Linked DNA regions of Homo sapiens. The protein of the gene in region 2 purifies or fractionates together with the protein of the main gene of each other region. This does not show direct contact. Each region holds a gene or a part of one and is shown on either strand. Other genes may lie near its edges. The genes, in order: ANXA13, APBB1IP and PLEKHH1.

Region 1 (7,109 bases), on a different chromosome or scaffold from region 2:
AGCCTCCCAAGTAGCTGAGACTACAGGTACACACTGCCATGCTCGGCTAATTTTTAAATTTTTTTGTGTAGAGATGGGGTTTTGCCATGTTGTCCAGGCTAATCTCAAACTCCTAGGCTCAAGCGATCCTCCACCTCAGCCTCTCAAAGTGCTGGGATTATAGGCGTGAGCCACCATGACCCCAGCCTGCCATCTATTCTGACAAGCACCTGTCTTCCTCTTTTCTTTGAGCACCCTCTTTTCACAAGAAAACTAACTACCTTCTCCCTGTCTCCCTCTGACAATGTGGTTTAACAGGAGAAATGGTCAAGGATGGGCATCAGCCTACCTAGAGTAGTTAATGCCCTAACTTAAACCAAAGACCTTCACATAGAGCGACAGCCTGGGATGGCTCAGATTGGAGGCCCATAGACAAGCTGGCATTTCAAGGACACAAACTATAGCATAGGGTGGGCAGCTCCCCAGCAGTGTGGCATGGTGGCAAAGAACACAGCCACAGTACCTTTGTGACCTTGGAAATGTACTTAATCTCACCAACTGTCAGTTTTCAGCTCTAGAAAATGGAGACAGTGCTAGACTGACCTCACAGGGTTTTTGGGAGAATTAAATGTGACAATCCTTGTCAATACTGAGCATTACTGCCTGACATATTTTAAACGGTCAATAAATGCTTATCATTAATCTCCCATGCTGAAAAAAATTTTCTAAGAGGAGGCACATCAACTATTTTTCAAATGAAGCTCTGAGCTCTTGGCCTGGGAGAAAAACCCGGAATATTTTTGTCCAAAGCCCTGGGATCTGCAGTCCTACAAGGGGGCTGTTATATTATGCCTCCGCCCCACAGTGGCTGCTCCAGCCAACACTGCATCTTGTGAAGGCAGGTCTGTGGTCAGTACTCTATGGTGTGGAGTCATCTAAAAATTGGAAATATATTTTCAGGCCAGATGGGCATTATATAAGCTGCAGAGAAGAAAAATCCCAGCTTCCCACTCTTACAAGCCACAGGCATAAAAACAAATCCTTGTGTGCTTACATTCTGACTGGACAGAGTAGAAGGCTCGGGATAGCTCAGCTCTACTCCTGGTTTTCCTGCTGACTCTGTTACCACGGGGTGGTTATTCTCTTTGGAGGTCAACTGACACGGGGCTGAGATTGGATCATACCTAACATCTTCTAGCTTTGCGTTGTTGGGATTCTAGATTATCTGTTTGGCAGTCTCAGTTCTCTGAAACACAGCTGAGAACCAGAAAGTAAGCAAATGATTGGCAAATGAAGTATCACAAAGTTTTGTGCCAGAACATGCCCATTTAAGTTTTAACAGGGCCCCTAGGCTTTCAGTTTGAATCCATTTACTCTTCTTTAGACTAAAGACTAAAGATTAAGAAGCATTGTATCCGATTTTTCTTTCTTTCTTTCCTTCTTCCTCTCTTTCTTTCTCTCTCTCTTTCATTCTTTTGTTCTTTCTTTTTCTTTCCTTCCTTCCCTTCTCTCCCTTCCTCTCCACCTCCCTTTCTCTCTTTTTCTTTTCTTTTCTTTCTTTCCTTTCCACAGGGTCTCTCTCTGTCACCCAGGCTGGAGTGCAGTGGTGCAACTACGGCTCACTGAGGCCTCAACTTCTTGGGCTTAAGCAACCCTCCAGCCTCAGCCTCCTGAGTAGCAGGGACTACAGGCACACACCACCATGCCCAGCTAATTTTTTATTTTTGGTAGAGATGAAGGTCTCAACTGGTCTCAAACTCCTGGGCTCAAGTGATCCTCCTGCCTTGGCCTCCCAAAGTGTTGGGATTACAGGTGTGAGCCACCTTGCCTGGACTGACTTTTCATATTGGTAGGGTGAATGTGTCTTGGGAGGCTACTGGAGTTAGGGATGTTGACAGGGATAAAAATTCAGCTTCAGGCCAGGCACGGTGGCTCACACCTGTAATCCTGGCACTTTGGGCTGATGTGGGCAGATCACGAAGTCAGGAGTTTGAGACTAGCCTGACCAAAATTAAAATACAAAAATTTTACTAAAAACACAAAAATTAGCTGGGCATGGTGGCGCGTGCCTGTAATCCCAGCTACTCAGGAGGCTGAGGCAGGAGAATCGCTTGAACCCGGGAGGCAGAGGTTACAGTGAGCCAAGATTATGCCACTACACTCCAGCCTGGGCAACAGAGTGAGACTCCGTCTCAAAACAAAACAAAACAACAACAACAAAAAAAACCACACACACATTCAGCTTCATGCATTCAATTAAATGCAGTTGAACTGAAGATGCACTTATTTTCATCAAAAATTACATTGACGCACCTAATAGTAAGGAGAGAAGCAGAAAAAGCACAAAAGCACAGCCATTTGGGCCATTTAGTGTACAAGCAAATAGCTCTATTTATGGCACTGGGTCCTCCAGGAATGGATACTGTTCTTGAAGTCAGGAGACTTGGATGTGAGACTTGGATGTGAGTCCTGGTTCTCTTTTTTTTTTTTAGGTGTGTGATTTTGTAAAATGGAAACAATCATAGCTATCATAGCTTTTTCCTGTATTGGTACATGCTGGCATTATCCTGACTGATTCTCCCAGCAACCTGAGAAGGGAGCTAAGTTATCATCTTCTTTCTATCCATGAAAAGACCAAGGCCTGAAGCAATTGTTACCTGCTCAGTATCAAATAAATAGGAAAACCCATCTTCATCTTTCTATATATCTATTTATACCTACAGTGATTGAAATGGTAAAAGTTTGAAAAATATAAATGAGAATACAGCATAATAATTGATATTCATTTTGCATAATGATAATTCTAATGACATTAAGAAAAGTTTAAGTTGTGTTCATTACATATTAATAAAGAAATAAGAAAGCCTAATGCATACTTGAAGACTTCTCTCTATAAAATTATTTTCAACAATAAAAAGAATGAAAGAAAAGAAAGAAAATGTAAAGAAAAATAGGTGTTGATAGCTTAATAAAATGGAGAGTTTTTTTGGTAGTTTTCTGTAACAATCGCTTATGAAAAATTCCTGTATAAAGACCCACTTGTGGAAACTGATTTTCAAATTACTGATCTAGCTACATATGTACAGTTAGTCCCAATTAAGTGAAAAAAAGACTAGGGTCTTCATAGAAAAATGAAGTCAATTTAAGAAATGAGTTTAAGAGTATTGATTTTACAGGCTATTGAGTTAACAAAGCAATTTCAGTTTTTCTGAACTCCATTAATGCTTTTAAGTGGTTATTTCACTTTTCCTCCTGGGCTGACTCAATAAAGCTATAAAGATATTCTGCGTGGCCTGGGGACATGAGGAAGCCGAGACGGCTGAGGCCATGGCTGGGTGCAAGCTTGCTGACCACCCCTGGAATCACCTTGCCGTACGTTGCCTTGTACTTTTGCTTGATTTGTTGCCTCTCATCTGATGTCCTGCCCGATAAGATTTCAATGATGGCTGCTTCATTGGTCCCTAAAATACAGGAGAAACAAACAAAGCCACAGTGAATAAGAAACAAGGTGGAAGTTTATTTTAGTCCAGGGTGAGGAAGCCAGGACTCACAGCTTAAAGGTGGTTGGAGGTGTCTATGGAACCCAACGGACCCTTAGCTTTGATGCCTTGTGCTGAAAACTGTATTCTTTTCATTCACTTAGACAAATAGCCATTGAGGCCTCACAGCACATGGCACACAGTGCTAGGCATTGTGGTGGAAAGAGGAACGAGTATGGCTGGTTCCTTAATTTTATTCCTAGGGAAATGAAAACATATGTCCACCCAACAATTGCATGTGAATGTTCATAGCAGCATTACTCATAATAGCTCAAACGTGGAAGCAGCCCCAGTGTTCATCACCTGAAGATGAATAAACAAAATATGGGGTATCCATACAATGGAATGTTATTTGGCCAGAAAAAGGAATAAATTACTGATAGATGTTATAACATGGATGAACCTTGAGAACATTATGCTAAGTGAAAGAAGTCAATCATAGCAGATCACATGTTATATAATTCCATTCGTATGAAAGTCCGGAACAGGAGAATATACAGAGGCTGGAAGTATACTAGTGGCTGGGGGTGGGTGGGCTGCCTAGGGGGATGGTAGCTGGAGTCCAGGGCTGCTTTTTGAAGTGATGAAAATGTTCTAAAATTGACTGTGGTGGTGGTTGCATGCATCTGTGAGTATAATAAAAACTGTTGAATTGAACACTTTAAATGGGTGAATTATATGGTGCATGAATTATATCTCAATTAAAATGTTTTAAAAAACAAAAAGGAAAAAGATGGCCTGTTCCTTGGCCTCTGGGTGCTTACAATTGCATGAACAAGATTAGGATATAGGCTGAAACTGTTACAATATTAACCCCACCCATACATTTGTTAATCTCAGGAGAGAAGTCTTGATTGAAACCATGAAGGGAGGTTGCCCCTTTTAACTCCTATTACCTTTAGATTATGTTATTTTTAGAAGCTTTTTTACCCCTGATGCTCAAAGTAATACAAGCTCATGGCAGCAATTTGATCAGTACTGAAAACTATAGTGAATAAGAAAGAAGGGGAGAATGTCCTTGTTTGAACCAGGAACCAGGATCGGAAAGATGACACAGGTATTTCCAGTGTGCGAATAAGAAAGACGGTTTTACCATCAAACCCCACATTAGATTTATTCAGGTTGGACTCAAATCACAGCTCCACCCTGTACCGACTGCATGACATTGGGCAAGTGATTTTTCTTGCCAAGTCTCAGTTTTCCCACCTCTAAGATGAGGGTAATAGTATACAAGGCTATTGTGAGAATGAAATGCGAGAATCCAAGTGTGGGTCCAGTCCGCGGTGGTCCTAAGCACGCACGTGGGAAACCCGGGACACCAGGGGATGTAAATGACCACGCGCCTGGCACTGCCTCACATCCATGCAGGGTGTGCACAGGGACCACCCTCCATGAACTGCTCACCCCAGTGATCGAGCTCGGTGGGATCAAGGCACAGCAGTCAGCAATCTCTGGAGCTGGAGGAAATGTTAGAGACTATCTAGTCCAAGCTCTTCTTTACAGAAGAGGAAGCTGAGGCACAATGCAGCACCTCTTCTCGGTTCCTGCATGTACCTGACTGTTCTGCAGCATTTGAATTCTGCAGTCGGGAATTATTTTTTTTTTTTGAGACAGGGTCTGGCTATGTCACCCAGGCTAGAGCGCAGTGGCATGATCACTGCAACCTCCACCTCCTGGGTTCAAACAATTCTCCTGCCTCAGCCTCCCGAGTAGCTGGGATTACAGGCACCCACCACCATGCCCAACTAATTTTTGTATTTTTAGTAGAGATGGGGTTTCACCATGTTGGTCAGGCTGGTCTCAAACTCCTGGCCTCAGGTGATCCACCTGCCTCAGCCTCTTAAAGTGCTAGGATGACAGGCATGAGCCACCGCACCCGGCCTGCGGTTGACAATTCTTTGCGTGAAACACCTTCCTAGATGGCTTTGTACCTCCTTTCCCAGTCTTTCCTTTCTCCTCTCCATCACCTCCCTCTCAGGGTTCTTGATTGGCCTGTATTCTTCCACTGGCCTTTTAAACTCGATTTTCAGTTCTCCTCTCTATTGGAGTCACTCCTTTCCCAGGCGACTTTCGCCCTTTGACTGATGACTCCAGGATCAGCGCCTCTAGCCCTAATCTCTCCTCTGAGTTCAGATCTTATTTCCAGCTGCCTGTAGTCAACTTCCCACGGATCTCCCAAGGCATTTCAACTTCCATTGTAGCTTAAACCAAACTCATTTTGTCTATCCTTAAATCCACTCCTCATCCTGTTCCTTTGTCTCAGTGCATGGCATCACACGGATTAGAGAAAATCCAAAGTCACCTTTGAGGGCCCATCAGTCTTTTTTACTCTCAAATACTACCAAGTCCTGCCTGTCTCACCTATGAGACAACTCTTTTACCTGTTCCTCTTCTTCATTCCTTCTGTCACTGCCTAACAGGTCCTAAGTGTTTTTAGCCTTCACCCCGATACCAGGCTCTGATCTCTGCAGTCCACCCTGGGAAGCTCGCATGTGTTCACTTCACACCATACTTTAAATACCTTTAGTGATTCCTCTTGACTCCTAGAATTACATCAGAATCCCTTATGGTGGCATCGAGACTTCCCGCAGTTTGGTGTCATGCTACTCTTCTAGATCCATCTCTGCACAGAGCAGCCCAAGGCTTACTCACCTAATCTCAGCCACACTTGTTAAGTTTCTGCTTCCTCTGTTTTGGCACAGCACACTATTTACATGTATGTTTCTAGGATCACTGCAGTGATTATCCAAGACTGCAGTAGTGACATTCTGAGCCCGACACCTGGGCTCTAGGGAGTGGCCACTACATGGCAGTGTGTGCTGTTACAGTGTCACTTACTGCTGTCTTGCTCTGGTTGGTGTGTGGACCTAGATGATGGCTGCCACCCAGCTGAGCCATCAGGATCCTGAAGGAACAAGATCGTGCAATGCATTTTGATGGAAGGGTTGAGAGTAGGAAAAATCTAGGCCATGGGGATGGGAAATGAATGGAGGGAAACTAGCTGGAGATGGGGTAGAGAAAAAAAAGGGAGCCCTGGCAAAAAAATGTGAGCTGTTTAACCCTCCTTCTGCTCCAGCACCAGCCCTCAGAGTCAGCTTTGGAAAGACAGAGAGGCGACTTGGAAAGACAGGCCTGAGCAGGGGTCTGATGTGACAACCATGTTCCAAACCTTTGGGTCCTTGAACCGTTCACTTAACCTCAAAGAGTATTTTCACCTCTACAGCTCTGGGAACATTTAGCTGTTTGGTTTCAATTGGAGAAACAGAATTCTAGGAGGATCTCACTTGCAAAAATAGCAGGAGTGAGTTGCCTGCCTGGTGCTGGCTTGGTTTCAACACTGGGATTCACGTTGTCCTCCTTCATTTCCTCCCGGAGCTTCGCCTCCATCGTGGGAATCCAATTACTCATTCTATGACACTATTATGATTTTTAAAAAAAAACTTCGGAGTGTCAGAAATCTCACTTCAAAAGGGATTTCTTTTTCTTGTAAATATCTCTTGAGCCTACCTCTTTCTTTCCATTCAGGCCACTCCTGTCCCAGACGAGGGCCTTGGCCTCTCAGGCCTGGATCCTGGCAGGTGCCAAGCCCGG
Region 2 (7,109 bases):
GGGGGCACAGGAGGCCTCTTGGCCACCGCGGGGGGCGGCCTGGCGGAGTCGGGGACGGGGGCGGGCGCGGGCGCGGGCGGCGGCGGCGGCGGCGGGGGCAGCTCTGAGCCCGCGATCCCTGCGTACGACGGCGGGGGCGGGGGCACGAAGTCTGGGGGCGGCTCCATGAAGTCCGGGGGCGGCGGCGGGAGCTCAGGGTCATCGAGGGGCGGCGGCGGTGGCGGCGGCGGCAGGAAGTCGTCGGGTGGGGCGGGCAAGCCCCCGCCGCCTGTGCCCTTGGCCTTGAGGGGCGTGGCGGGACTGCCGCTGGTGTCGGAGGACCTCCGCACCGGAGGGGGCGGGGGCAGGCTGGACTTGGGGGCGTGCGGGGCCCGGGGCACTGCCGGGTCGTGGTGGTTCCCGAGGGCTGGCTTCTTATCCTGCAACCGAGTGGCAGTAGCATTCATTTTTTTTTTAATTTTTGAAATTTTAAATTTATTGTTATTAATTAATGGAGACGGGGTCTCACTCTGTCGCCCAGGCTGAGTGCAGTGGCGCGATCTGGACTTACTGCAGCCTCGACCTCCCGAGCTCAAGCAATCCTCCTGCCTCGACCTCCCGAGTAGCATTCCTTATTCTCAAGGCAGCCCCAGTGGACAAAACAGCCCTAGTGGACAGGGCCATGCCATAGATATGTGAGTCTCTGTCCGCCCCCTGGGGAGCCTCTGTCCCTCAGTCACTGAGACTCCTGGTCGGTCATGAGCTCATCTTTGTTCTGGAATAAGGCAATTATTCTAAATGGTCTTTAAAATTAAAAATAATCATTTTTCTAATTTTTTAATATTTTGGCTGGGCATGGTGGCTCATGCCTATAATCTCAGCACTTTGGGAGCCCAGGCAGGTGGATCACTTAAGTCCAGGAGTTCAAGACCAACCTGAACAATATGGTGAAACCTTTTCTCCTTTAAAAATACAAAAATTAGCCTGGTATGGTGGCAGACGCCCGTAGTCCCGGCTACTGGGGTGGCTAAGGCATAAGAATTGTTTTAACTTGGAAGGTGGAGGATGCAATGAGCTGAGATCATGCCATTGCACTCCAGCCTGGGCAACACAACGAGACTATGTCTCTCTCTCTATATATATTTTTAGAGATGGAGTCTCGCTGTGTTGCCCAGGTTAGTCTCAGACTCCTAGCCTCAAGTGATCCTCCTGCCTCAGCCTCCTGAGTAGCTGGAATTACGGCCACCCCACCTGGCCCAAATGGACTTTAACAGTATTTCCTGTTGTTACAGTGGAACAGCAAAAAAAACGAATGTAACTTACTTCATTTTTGTTTAAAGTGGCCTTTACCCATTCCTGCACATAGGATAATTTTAGAGCACTGATATAAATATGCAAACCCAGCAATCATGTAGTTTTAAAAACTAACTCTGGGATTAAAGAAGTAAACAACTATGTTTTGTTAAAGATTTATATGACCATTGTAACCTGACCAAGGACAGAGTAGTTCCCAACCTCTTTGGACTCTTGTTGGCACCCAGATGTCTGCAGTCTCTGGTCATCTTTTGATCTCAACTCTCTCCCCAACTCTCTCCTCTTCCCCATATCCCACACCCATTAAAATCCTCCAGTTAGCCTGAAAAATTTAAGATTGCACTTTAGAACACTAGTCACCATCTTCATGGTGTTACTGGCTTTCCAAATAAACCACCTTTTCCTCCCATCATCCCTAATCTCTTGAGTCTGGCTTTTAAGTGGTGAGCAGCCAAACCTGGGTTCAGTTACCCTGTGGCACTCATCTACCAAGTCTCCTATAAATGGAAGATCTGGCTATGTTCAATGAGGTGTTTAGATCGTATTTAGATCACATGAGTATCACTTCCTTGGAACTTGCCTTATCCAGGAGTTGCTGTGTGTCTCTAAAGGGGCTTTCGTGGTATATCTCTTGTGGGGTTGGCTCAGTCTATAAACCACCCTCAGCTCATTCATTCCTTCAAAATGGAAGCCAAATGACTTCACTCCTTGGTTCTCAAGCCAAGCCACCAGAGTCCTCGTCATATAGGAAGGGATACATTTTTTCTTGGTCTGAGTTGAGCTGGTTGTGAAGCTCGTGTCAGGAGTAAGCGTCTGTAAAATTATCTTGCTCCTATTCCACACAACACACAGTAGAAACACACAGCAACTCCTGGGGGTTGAGGACTTCCCAAAACCTTCACACAGTCTCCTGGCTTAAATGTCCTACTTTGATTAGGATGAAGGAGATGGAAAGGGAAGAGTGAATGGAAATAGTTCTCTCTTGGCTACAGGTAAGCTTTGTGCAAACGTAGGCACAAAGGATATGTTGCCTGGCAAAGACCTTTCTGCCTGATTTTGGGGACAATGTCTCCTTGTGTTGGTGAGCTGAGAACACAGGTCCATTTTGCCAGGACTGTGGGCTTCTAGGGAGGAGCCGATTACAAGCTTGGCTCCAGCTGGCCTCACAGCTTCAGGGAAGGCAGTGTGGTGGGCCAGGAATCAGGACAGGACATCTGGTCTCTAATAAGTTTACTTTTTCTTTTCTTTATTTTATTTTATTTTTATTTTTATTTTTATTTTTTTGAGGCAGAGTCTCGTTCTGTCACCACGGCTGGAGTGCAGTGGCAGCATCTCCCCTCACTGCAAACTCCACCTCCCGAGCTCAAGCAATCCTCATGCCTCAGCCTCCGGATTAGCTGGAATTACAAGTGTGTGCCAACACCCCCAGCTAATTTTTGTACTTTTTGTAGAGACAGGGTTTCTACATATTGGCCACTCTGGTCTCCAACTCCTGGACTCAGGTGATCCGCCTGCCTCGGCCTCCCAAAGTGTTGGAATTACAGGCGTGAGCCACTATGTCTGGACAGTTTACCATTTCTCAACTGCATGAAACTTGGCTGGTTCACTGGATATAAAATTAGCCCCATAGTCCTCATTATGACTCGTGTCTCAGGTTGTGATGAGATCAAATGAGATAAATATGTGAGTTCTGAAAAGTAAAATCACCAGCATGTGCTATTGGTAGAAACCAGCATGCCAAATTTGGCCTAAGTCTAATAGACGCATAGCCCTTCCTCTGCCAATACTGGAATAGATAATAATAATTTATATAATGAAACATCCCCAGGCAGCTGGATTGAATCCCTCTGTTTTAGTGATAATTATCATTTCAATTTACAGTTTATCAGGGTTCCAGTTCATTTCATTCTCTGCTTAGTGGCCTCTTACCATTGAAGATTAAATTTGGAATTTTTTTCTAATAAAGTGCCTTCTGATTTAGTTTCTATTTTATTTAGTTTATTTACTTCACATGATAAGCTCTTTAACTGGTGATGTATTTTTTCTTTTTATTTAAATTTCTGAACAGGCAGCTTGGGAATTGGTGTTCACATATAGTTAAGTGATTTCTATTCTGAGATTCTTTTATTTCTTTCAGCATTTTTAAATGCTGTCCTTCAATTGGCATTTAGAAATAATGAAAATAATAGTAGCTGAAAGCACATCGCATGAGGAGATTGTCAGGCTTGAGAAGATAATGAGAACATTAAAGAAATACAACGTTTAAAGGTCTGCAGTGGTTGTCAAAATTATAAGTTCGATAAATACCAATATTTAGTTGTTTTCACCACTGGCTGATGGACAAAATGAAGGGGTGAAAGAAGTGAAAAATTGTTGAAGTGAAGCACCCTGCCTGTCCTAGCTGGGTGATATGCTATTGTCACAGTTATTTAAGGTTGTTTTGAATCACACAAGAGAAATATTCAACAGAATATATACAGTCAGCTGAGAAGCTTTGAACTAAATTAGTAACTAAATAATAATTATTAGTTATGATTTTAAGATAGATTTAAAGGAATCTTCACTGATCTATTCGGTTGAAAAAATTTTATGGAGAATTATACCAATTTGGCTATTATTTTACAATGTATTTTCTCCTCCATCACCTGGGGATGTATGTAGGAAGGACATTAATGGGGAAAATAGAAAATACACATTTTTAGTGTAACCCTTCTTTATCTTTTTTCTTTTTTTTAAGACAGGGTCTTTATCTGTCACCCAGGCTGGAGTGTAGTGGTGCAACCAGAGCTCACTGCAGCCTTGAACTCCTGGGCTCAAGGGATCCTCCTGCCTCAGCATCCCAGGTAGTTGGGACTACAGGTGCTCACCACTGTGCCCAGCCCTATTTATAATGTAGCTCTTTTAGCAGTCTTCTAATCTGATTTTGGGGGCCAGTTAGCACTTCATATAGGGCTTCAGACTACTAGTTGCCCTATTTTATTCAAAAAAGGCAAGTAAAATCCCATGGGTTTAAAACTTGGATGTGCTACTATCAGAGAGGGCTAAAATCACTTGACTAAACCAAGAAAACCACTTTGGTCAAAGTAAACATAGCTAATTAACTCCAGAGTTTAAAGGAAATGCTTACATTTTTCCTAAGCAGTGTGATGATAGCTGGTTTTAACTTTTGATTCTAGCATATGTAACTTTAAGATTACAAATATCAAGCAATCAACTAAATTAAATTGTAGTAACTTCTCAGTTGTTGGAACTGCATTTTCTATTTATTTATTTATTTATTTATTTATTTTAAGACTGGATCTTACTCTGTCGCCCAGGCTGGAATGCAGTGGCGCAATCACAGATCACTGCCGCCTTAACCTCCTGGGCTCAAGCAAGTCAAACACCTCAGCCTCCCCAGTAGCTGGGACTACAGGTGCATGCCACCATGCCTGGCTAATTTTTTTTTTCTAGTAGAGACAAGCTCTCGCTATATTGCCCAGTCTGGTCTCAAACTGAAGCTCAAGTGATCCTCCTGCCTCAGCCTCCCAAAGTTCTGGGATTACAGGTGTGAGCTACTGCACTCAGCTTATTTTCTCTTTTTAAAAGAGCAGTTACTGGAATAATGTGAATGGTTTAGAACATGGCTTATAGGGGTCAGCTGCTTGCTGGTTTTACCTTCGATGTTTCAGCATGTCTCTGGGCCTCTTGGAGAACAGCACTGACAGAATGTGTAGCCTGGGGAATCTGTCCATTGGGCTGGGTGGTGCCTGTTTTAGGTCCTGAGAGGGAAGAAGTGAGAAAAGAAGAGTGAGCAAAGCATTTTCAACATTCTTGAAAGTCGATCTGAAAATACAAAGCAGTTTGCATCTCTAAAGCAAAGAAAGATACTTGTTGGCTAGTTCTTACAAAAAAAACAAAAATAAAAACAAAGCAAAGAGAGCAACTCACAGGCATGGCATGGTACACAAAACCTTAAGAAAAATCTGAGGTTCTGTGACAAAACTTTATATGAGATTCAGCAAAAAGATCAGGAAGGTGAGTACGGTATTTGATAAAGCCCACTGAGGAGGGTCTGGACTAACTGGGATCCTGGAGAGTAACAATATGTTTTACTTTTAAAAACTTTTCAGTAATTGAAGAATAAACCTTGAAAACATATTTTTAAAAATTCTTGATTTTTTTAAAATGTATTTATCCAGTTTCACACCACACTGAGTACAGGTACAGGAACAACTCTTCAACATTGTCCTCAACAAAAAGTACATTGGACACAGAAACAACAGACAGAAATTCGGGCAAAATGTGGGGGTCCTTGAAATAATCTGGAATTAGATGTGGTTTTTCCCCCCAAAAGTCCTGGTATGCTATTTTATTTTCCTGCCTTTTAATTTGTCCTTTTGACACAGAACTTTGACTCATGTTACCTTAAAATGTGCTGTCCAGGATTGGGTGCAAGACATCAAAACACCAGGGCATAATCTTATTCTTGGTGTGAACAGTTTTCTGGGCACTAATGGAGCCTTGGACTGATATAATGTTTGTACTTTGATAAGAAACATCTACCTACTAGCTCACTGTAAACAGGAGATCAACACCTCATCCACAGAATATCACGAAAGAAGTGGTCAAAGCTTTGTTAAAAGGCGCTTAAAATAGATACAGGGCTCCAGCCTGGGTGACAGAGCAAGACCTTACCTCCAAAAAAAAAAAAAAAAAGCAAAGAAGAAAAAGAAAACAGGCCAGGTGCAATGGTTCACGCCTGTAATCCCAGCACTTTGGGAGGCTGAGGCAGGTGCATCACGAGGTCAGGAGATCAAGACCACCCTGGCTAACACGGTGAAACCCTGTCTCTACTAAAAATACAAAAAATTAGCCAGGCATGGTGGCGGGCGCTTGTAGTCCCAGCTACTCAGGAGGCTGAGGCAGGAGAACGGTGTGAACCCAGGAGGCGGAGCTTGCAGTGAGCTGAGATCCCGCCACTGCACTCCAGCCTGGGCAACAGTGCGAGAGAGTCTCAAAAAAAAAAAAAAAAAAAAAAAAGAAAGAAAGAAAGAAAAAAAGAAAAGAAAAAGAAAACAGATGTTATAGGGGTGTGTGTGTGAGGGCTGGGCTGAGTCGGGGAGTTTGAGCCTGATCATCAGGTGAGAAACATATTCTGAATGCTGTGTACAAAGTCCTGTTTGTATAGATGTATTGGATACATTTTGAACTGGAGCACCAAGCTTTGAATATGTGTTGGAATTTCTCCTCCACTTAGTACCTGTAGATGGCTGAGCTGGTGCAGCTGCATTGACTGTCCCCAAGTTTGTCCACCGAGAGGCAAGTCCAGCCTTTGCCACAGCCCGCTGGTAGTTATCATAGAGAGTCTTCCCATACTGGGGAGAGAACACAAAGGAAGAAGGAAAGGAATCCATGTATCCCAAATTCTGCACTCAATTGCAATATACATATACAGAAGAAATAAATACTCCACGGCTACTCTGTTCACCACTTGTCTGAGTTGGTTTTTTGGATATTTCCATTAAAATTTAACAAATACACATTCAATCATTTTCCAGATTAACAGAGTCAGTTAATTTTTTCACCTACATATTAGAGAAGAGCTTTGCTCAGTTCTGATTACGTGTGTCTTTATGTAACTCGATCACAGGTTCCATCTTGCGTTTTTTAATTGCACACTAAGCTTGCAATACTCGCCATGAGTAAATATCCGGTTACTGGAGAGGTTCGTGTTTCTATCGCTCCTCCCATTTAGAAAACCCACTGGGCGAATAAACCTGATAATGTCTGTGGCTGAACCCAAGGGTGGGCCAGCTGTTTCACAGTACCAGGAA
Region 3 (7,109 bases), on a different chromosome or scaffold from region 2:
TATCCAATGTTACAAGTAAGGAAGCTGGCCTGGCGCAGTTGCCTATAATCCCAGCACATTGAGAGGCCTAGGCAGGTGAATCACTTGAGGTCAGGACTTTGAGACTAGCCTGGCCAACATGGTGAAACCCCGACTCTACTAAAAATATAAAAATTACACTTTGGGAGGCTGAGGCGGGCGGATCACGAGGTCAGGAGATCGAGACCATCCTGGCTAACATGGTGAAACCCCGTCTCTACTAAAAATACAAAAAATTGGCCGGGCGTGGTGGCAGGTGCCTGTGGTCCCAGCTACTTGGGAGGCTGAGGCAGGAAAATGGCGTGAAACTGGGAGGCAGAGCTTCCAGTGAGCTGAGATTGTGCCACTGCACTCCAGCCTGGGCAACAGAGCAAGACTCTGTCTCAGAAAAAAAAAAAAAACAGTTAGCCGGGCATGGTGGCACACACCTGTAATTCCAGCTACTTGGGAGGCTGAGGTGGGAGTACCACTTGAACCTGGGAGGCGGAGGTTGCAGTGAGCCGAGACCGTGCTACTGCACTTCAGCCTGGGTGACAGAGCAAGACTCTGTCTCGAAAAAAAAAAAAAAAAAAAGCCAGGCTCAGTGGCTCATACTTACAATCCCAGCACTTTGGGAGGCCCAAGAGGGTGGATCACCTGAGGTCAGGAGTTTGAGGCCAGCCTGACCAACATGGTGAAACCCTGCCTCTACTAAAAATACAAAATTAGCTGGGCGTGGTGGTGCATGCCTGTAATCCCAGCTACTTGGGAGGCTGAGGCGGGAGAATTGATTGAACCCAGGAGGCAGAGGTTACAGTGAGCCAAGATCATGCTATTGCACTCCAGCCTGGGCAGTAAGAGTGAAACTCTGCCCCCTCACCCCCACCCCCCAAAAAAAAGAAAAGAAAAAGAAAAACAAAGAAAGAAAAATAGCCAACACTTACCTACCACCTACTGTGAACCACTACTGTAAGTACTTTCACAACAACCCTATAAAGTAGGTACTATTATCCCCATTTTATAGACAGGGAAGCTGAGGCACAGAGGTTCAGTAACATGTCCAAGGTCACGTAGTTAACAGTTCAACCCTAGTGGTTTGCTTCTGGGGCCTATGCTCTTGACCATCATACCAGACCACCTGAAAGACTCACAAAGATTAAATGAGAAAAGGTATGCAGGGCACCCAGCTCAATGTATGGTGCACGGTGAGCACTCAGGAAATGACAGCCAACCGCCATTCACATCATTCTGAATTCTGGCGCTGACCCTCACTGGTTGTGTGGTCTGCACAGGCTCCATGGTACCTGCCTGCCAGGGCCACCATGAGGATGCCAGCAGCCTCCTCTCCTGCTCAGTGCATGGCTGTGCTCAGCCAGCAGTGTTCTTGCCATTAGCTCTGCTCCTCTGCCCAGCCCGGAGGTTGCCTCTTACCCAGGATGAAAACTGGTGCAGCGGGGGTGTAGGTGGCTTGTTACCCAGCTCCACTTCCTCCAGCTCAGCTCCAAGGGCCTTTGGGCTCTCTCTTTCCTCATTCTTCCCTGCTGGGGGTGGCTCCTCCATCTCCATCTTCTCTGGTTCCTCCCGGGACCTAGCTCGGGACTCCAGCTCAGGAAGGCCAGAGGGGTGGAGGGCTGAGAAGGCCTCAGTCTCAATGTTCACCACACGGCCAAAGTGCCCATGGCCCACCTGGGGCTGGCTGTGGTGCCTTTTGGCCAACTGGATGCTGTCCCGCGGGGTGCCAGGAGCCCGCACCTTTGGTAGGGTCAGACTGCTGCCAGGACCACCTTCCCTGGCAGAGGTCTTTGTCCCAGGGAGCATCCCTCTCTGAGCAGTAACCAGACCCTCACCCCAGGAAGCTGAACTACATCTGAAGGTAAGAAGCTTCATGCATGGCTGGTGGGGAGGGCTCTCTCTTCCCAGATGAGGTTGAAGGGGCTTGGCCTCTACTGTTTCCCCAGAATGGACCGTGCTGGAACTAGAATCCTCCAAGGGGCTTGCTGCTTCAGAAACAGAGTCCTTGCTCTGCAGGGCACCTGGGGAAGGTGCAAGCACAGCTGCCTTCAGACCCTGGGCCTGGGAGCCACTGTCCTGGCCCATAGGCTGGATTCCCGGCTCTGAAGGGACAGAATCCTGCTCTGCAGCTCCGTAGGGGGGCACCAGCAGCTTCCGTGAAGGAGCTATCTGAATAGCTGTGATTCGGGTAAAAACAGTCACATTGAGAGCTCCCGTAGCTCAGCCCCATACCCACCAAACACACGTACTGCACACCTGCACACCCTGGCCTGCCTACCTTCTAGCGCATCTTGAAGGGATCCCACCTGCTCCACCAGGCGCTGATTATGGCTTTTCAGATGCTGATTCTCCATCTCAAGCTGAGCAAAAAGAAAAATGAAGATTTAGGACACCCAGCCTACAGGTTTAGATGTATTTTTTCAATTCTTTTTTTTTTTTTTTTTGAGACAGGGTCTTGCTCTGTTGGCCAGACTGAATTGCAGTGGAGCAATTTTGGCTCACTGCAGCCTTGACCTCCCAGGCCCAACTGATCCTCCCACCTCAGCCTCCTGAGTAGCTGGGACCATAGACACACACCACCAGGCCCAGTTAATTTCGTTTATTTTTTTGTAGAGACAAGCTCTCGCTATGTTGCCCAGGCTGGTCCCAAATTCCTGGACTCAAACGATCTGCCCACCTCAGCCTCCCAGAGTGCTGGGATTACAGGCATGTGCCACTGAGCGTGGCTGCTGCATATTCTTTTCTTTTCTGAGACAAGGTCTGGCTCTATCACCCAGGCTGGAGTGCAGTGGTGCAATCTTGGCTCACTGCAACCTCTGCCACCAGGGCTCAAACCATCCTCCCACCTTAGCCTCCCACCTCAGCCTCCCGAGTAGCTGGGACTACAGGTGCACGCCACTATGCCCGGCTAATTTTTGTATTTTTTGTAGAGACAGAGATTTGCCATGTTGGCCAGGTTGGTCTCAAACTCCTAGTGTCGAGCAATCCACCCGCCTAGGTCTCCCAAAGTGCTGCTGGGACTACAGGTGTGAGCCACTGCCCCCAGCCTGCATTTTCCTTTAAATTAAGTCCAACACACTTTTATTGAGTATCTTTTAGCAAGGGTTGGGACTGTGAGAATACGCAGGTAAGCCAGGCATCAGTTCTGTCTCCAAGAACTTGCAGTCTAGCAGGTGACCTGAGATGTACATCCAAAGAAGGGGATAGGAGGCCAAATGAGCTGATACCCTCCTGCAGGTGTGAACCACTTGTGTGAGGACAGAGGAAAAGATGTATGTTTGTCAGCCGGGTGTGGTGGCTCACACCCGTAATCCTAGCACTTTGGGAGGCTGAGGCGGGCAGATCACCTGAGGTCAGGAGTTCAAGACTAGCCTGGCCAACATAACGAAACCCCGTCTCTACCAAAAGTACAAAAATTAGCCAGGCGTGGTGGCGTGTGCCTGTAATCCCAGCTACTCAGGAGGCTGAGGCAGGAGAATTGCTTGAACCCAGGAGGCAGAGGTTGCAGAGAGCCGATATTGTGCCATTGCACTCCAGCCTGGGAAACAAGAGCGAGACTCCGTCTCAAAAAAAAAAAAAAAAAAAAGATATATGTTCATCCTTTTCCAAACTGCAATTCCCACTCCTTTTATTTAGAAGGAGGTTGTTTTCTGTCTGTTGGTGATAGCACTGTAGCTTCAAGTCCTGAGTTTCCTAAATAAAGGTACAGCACGTGATAAACTACAAAAATGGATAGATAGAGAGGGAAGGTGGAATAGAGGTTACCAGGCGATGGGGGAAGAGAGAATGGGAAGTTAGTGTTTAGCAGGTACAGAGTTTCTGTTTGGAAAAATTTTAGACATAGATAGCAGTGATGGCTGCACAACACTGTGAATGTACTTAATGCCACTGAATTGCTGAATTGTACACTTAAATGGTACATTTTATGTATATTTTACCACACACACACAAATAGTTAAAAAGAATGAAGAGGATGGAAGAGAAAGTAGCAGGGCACGGTGGTTCCCTCCTTTAATCCCAGCACTTTGGGAGGCCGAGGTGGGTGAATCACCTGAGGTCAGGAGTTCGAGACCAGCCTGGCCAACATGGTGAAACCTGTCTCTACTAAAAATACAAAAATTAGCTGGGCATGGTGGTGCGTGCCTGTAACCCCAGCTACTCAGGGAGGCTGAGGCACGAGAATCGGTTGAACCCGGGAGGCGGAGGTTGCGGTAAGCCGAGATTGCGCCACTACACTCCAGCCTGGGCGAGAGAGCGAGACTCTGTCTCCAATAAATAAATAAATAAATAAAAATAAAAGAGAAAGTGGAGAGAGTGGACACTGGCCTGTGTGGGCTTCCTAGAAAGAAACTGAGGGGGCTTTTCAGAAGTGAGACACATTCCTTCTCGCAAACTTAAATCCAGCACCAAGCTAGTCAGGAGCTCCAGGGAGACCCAACCAAGACAAAAGGAAAGGGGAAGTGAACTACGGTGTCTCAGCATGGAGGCTGAATGCAAAACAAGTGCTGGACAGAATGAAGGTCAGCCGAGGCACCCTAGACAGTAGGGGGCAGGAAACTCCGGGGGTCAGGGCAGGCCCAGCCATGCCTCTGGCAGGCCTCCAAGATGAGTTTCCAACCCACCTTTGCCAACTTGAGTGTCACCCATTCCTTGATCTTTGCAGCTTTTTCTTGAACAGTTTTTGCTTCCTCTGCCCTCATCTGCTTCTGCAAGAAAGAGAGGGCCTTCCGTTAATCCCAACAATCACCAGGAGAGTGACTGACTGGAGGTGGGAAACCCCAAGAAAGGCCAAGTGTGCGTGCCACTGACCTCGCAAAGCCAGTGAGCAGAAATCGTTTGTTGAAATATTATTTGATAAGGTAACACAAAATTTAAAAACTCAAAACTGGAAATAGTCTAAGTGTTCACCACGAAGGGGTTGGCTGAATAAACGCGGCATATCCCTGACATGGAAGGAGAACGCTGTGCCTCCATATGCAAGCAAAGTTAATAGTGAGGAGTAGAAATCAAGGACTGGGGAGGGAGAGAGAGGTGACTTGTCATTTTATACTCCTCTGGCCGTTTTTTTATTTTTAACTATAAGCATGTGTTACCTTTATAGTTAAAAAACAAAAAAATAAGGCAAAATTGCAGATAACTGAGGTATTTCCATCAAAGTAGTCAAAAGAGGAGATGATTGAAAAGGTTGGCATCTGAAGAGGAGCAGCCTGGCTGGGCATGGTGGCTCATGCCTATAATCCCAGCATCAGACAACGTCAGACTCTCAGTATTTCAGAGCTGGAAGGACCTTAAAGGTCATCTAGTTTAAGGTGTGGCAAACAATGGCCTTCAGGCCACATCCAGTCCTCCACCTGCTTGCCCCCACCCAGACCTGTTTTTGTAAATAAAGTTGCATTGTAATACAGCCATGCTCATTCATTTACGTATTATCTGTGGCTGCTTCCATGTTACAACAGCAGCTTTGACCAGTTGCAACAGAGACCTGTGGCCCACAAAACATAAAATAGTTACTACCTGGACTTTACAGAAAAAGTCGGCCAACCCTGACCTGGTTTGATATTGTCTTTGTGCTTCTGTGGCAACTAAGGCTATGGCAAGAAGTGACTTGCCTCTGTCCATTCATGGCACAGCTGGGACTAAAACCAGGTCTCTTGACTCACAAAACAGTGCCTTTTCTTTTATGAGATTGACCTACTGATTCCAATTGTAAAATGACCTTTTTTCTGACCTAAGGAGCTTTAGCAGGAGTCATTTTGTCCACCAACCCCCAAGATGCTGCCACTTCTAACTATGAGCTACTCAGAAGAGAAGGTATGTCTAAAATCAATGGAAGAATTGATCAGAGATTCCATGTGTCAAAATTCTATTCTTCCATCAATTTTCAGGAGCACATGGTACCCCACAGCATACAAAGGCACCTCCATTAAGGGCCTATTGGGTTAATGCTGATGGGTAAACATGAATCTGCCCATTATGGTTGGAAGGCACCACCAGGATCGGCTTCTCCTACATGGAGAAGGCATGTGTAGGAAATTAAAAGTCATCTGTCCAGACTGTGGGGTGTTTAGTTGGAAATGATGGCATTCTGGCACGAGGGGAAAGCTGGGTAGGTAAGGCCAGTGGCAGAGGAAAGGGACAGAACTGGGATGGAGTTGGTGAGATTGTGAAGGGGAGAAGGCAGGACACAGGAACTGGCAGGTAGATGTTCCAGAAGTCCTCTCAGGAGCAAAGGTGCCAAGTGGAGCTGAAATGCTGGGCAGTGGCCTCTCCTGGGCTCCCATGTGCTCAGAAGGGAAGACCCTGGTTTTCTGAGGAGGCAACAACTTTGGTCTCTGCCTCTTCAGCTTCACTAAGAAACTTTGGGCAACCAGCTGGCCACGACTGACCATCCAGCTCTGTGCAGCTCTGATCATACTACAGCCAAGTATCAAGTATCTCATCTTGGCAGGGCACGACAAGGCCAGAATGGAGAAAGAAAAGTTCTCCTTACCAAGTACTGACCACGTGCCTGACACTAGGCACAGGTCACATAGGTTGCCTCTCCCAGCAGCTCTATGAGGTGTTTCCACCCTTCTTTTATAAATGTGTAAAATAAGAATCAGTGACTTAAACACTTTGCCCACTGTCAGAGGCAGCAGGTGCTAGAGGTGGGCTTCACACCCAGATCAGTCTGCCTCCAAGCTCCTTTTTCTACTCTATCCCCTGCCTGGCTTCTAATGAGCAGATGTGGGAGGAACAGTCCTTCCTATAATTAAATTTTCACATAAAAGAATAGGCTCAGGAGGGAGCGAGTTCCCCAGCACTAGAGGGCTTGAGCGGAACAGCTCAGGAAGCTGGGGGCCAGCAGTACAGATGTCGAAGAGGGCATGGTGCTCCCTTGCGCATGAGCCCTTACCTGCTTCTCCAGCTGAGCCTCTAGCTGGCTGATGAGCTCATCTTTGCCCTTTATGGCTTTCAGCAATTCTTGGTATTTCCGGTGCAGGCTCCCCTCAGAGTCCACATTCTTCAGATTGGATAGTTTTACCTTCTCTTCCATGACACCCACCTGAAAAGTACAATGATCTCATAGTGTCTTCCCATCACTCACACGGGGTGTGCAG

Evidence for each region.
Region 1: the proteins of APBB1IP (region 2) and ANXA13 purify together in Homo sapiens (affinity purification with mass spectrometry; 3 studies listed by BioGRID and IntAct, with this or other methods). This does not show direct contact.
Region 3: the proteins of APBB1IP (region 2) and PLEKHH1 purify together in Homo sapiens (affinity purification with mass spectrometry; 3 studies listed by BioGRID and IntAct, with this or other methods). This does not show direct contact.

What each region holds. Positions count from the first base shown.
Region 1 is NC_000008.11:123,699,297-123,706,405, forward strand, and holds part of ANXA13 (annexin A13), read right to left. Parts: intron 3,441-7,109; coding exon 3,346-3,440; intron 1-3,345.
Region 2 is NC_000010.11:26,560,271-26,567,379, reverse strand, and holds part of APBB1IP (amyloid beta A4 precursor protein-binding family B member 1-interacting protein), read right to left. Parts: intron 6,651-7,109; coding exon 6,536-6,650; intron 5,055-6,535; coding exon 4,951-5,054; intron 420-4,950; coding exon 1-419. UniProt on the Homo sapiens protein: Appears to function in the signal transduction from Ras activation to actin cytoskeletal remodeling. Suppresses insulin-induced promoter activities through AP1 and SRE. Mediates Rap1-induced adhesion.
Region 3 is NC_000014.9:67,557,214-67,564,322, reverse strand, and holds part of PLEKHH1 (pleckstrin homology domain-containing family H member 1), read right to left. Parts: intron 7,055-7,109; coding exon 6,905-7,054; intron 4,716-6,904; coding exon 4,632-4,715; intron 2,370-4,631; coding exon 2,288-2,369; intron 2,187-2,287; coding exon 1,429-2,186; intron 115-1,428; exon of another isoform or gene 1-114.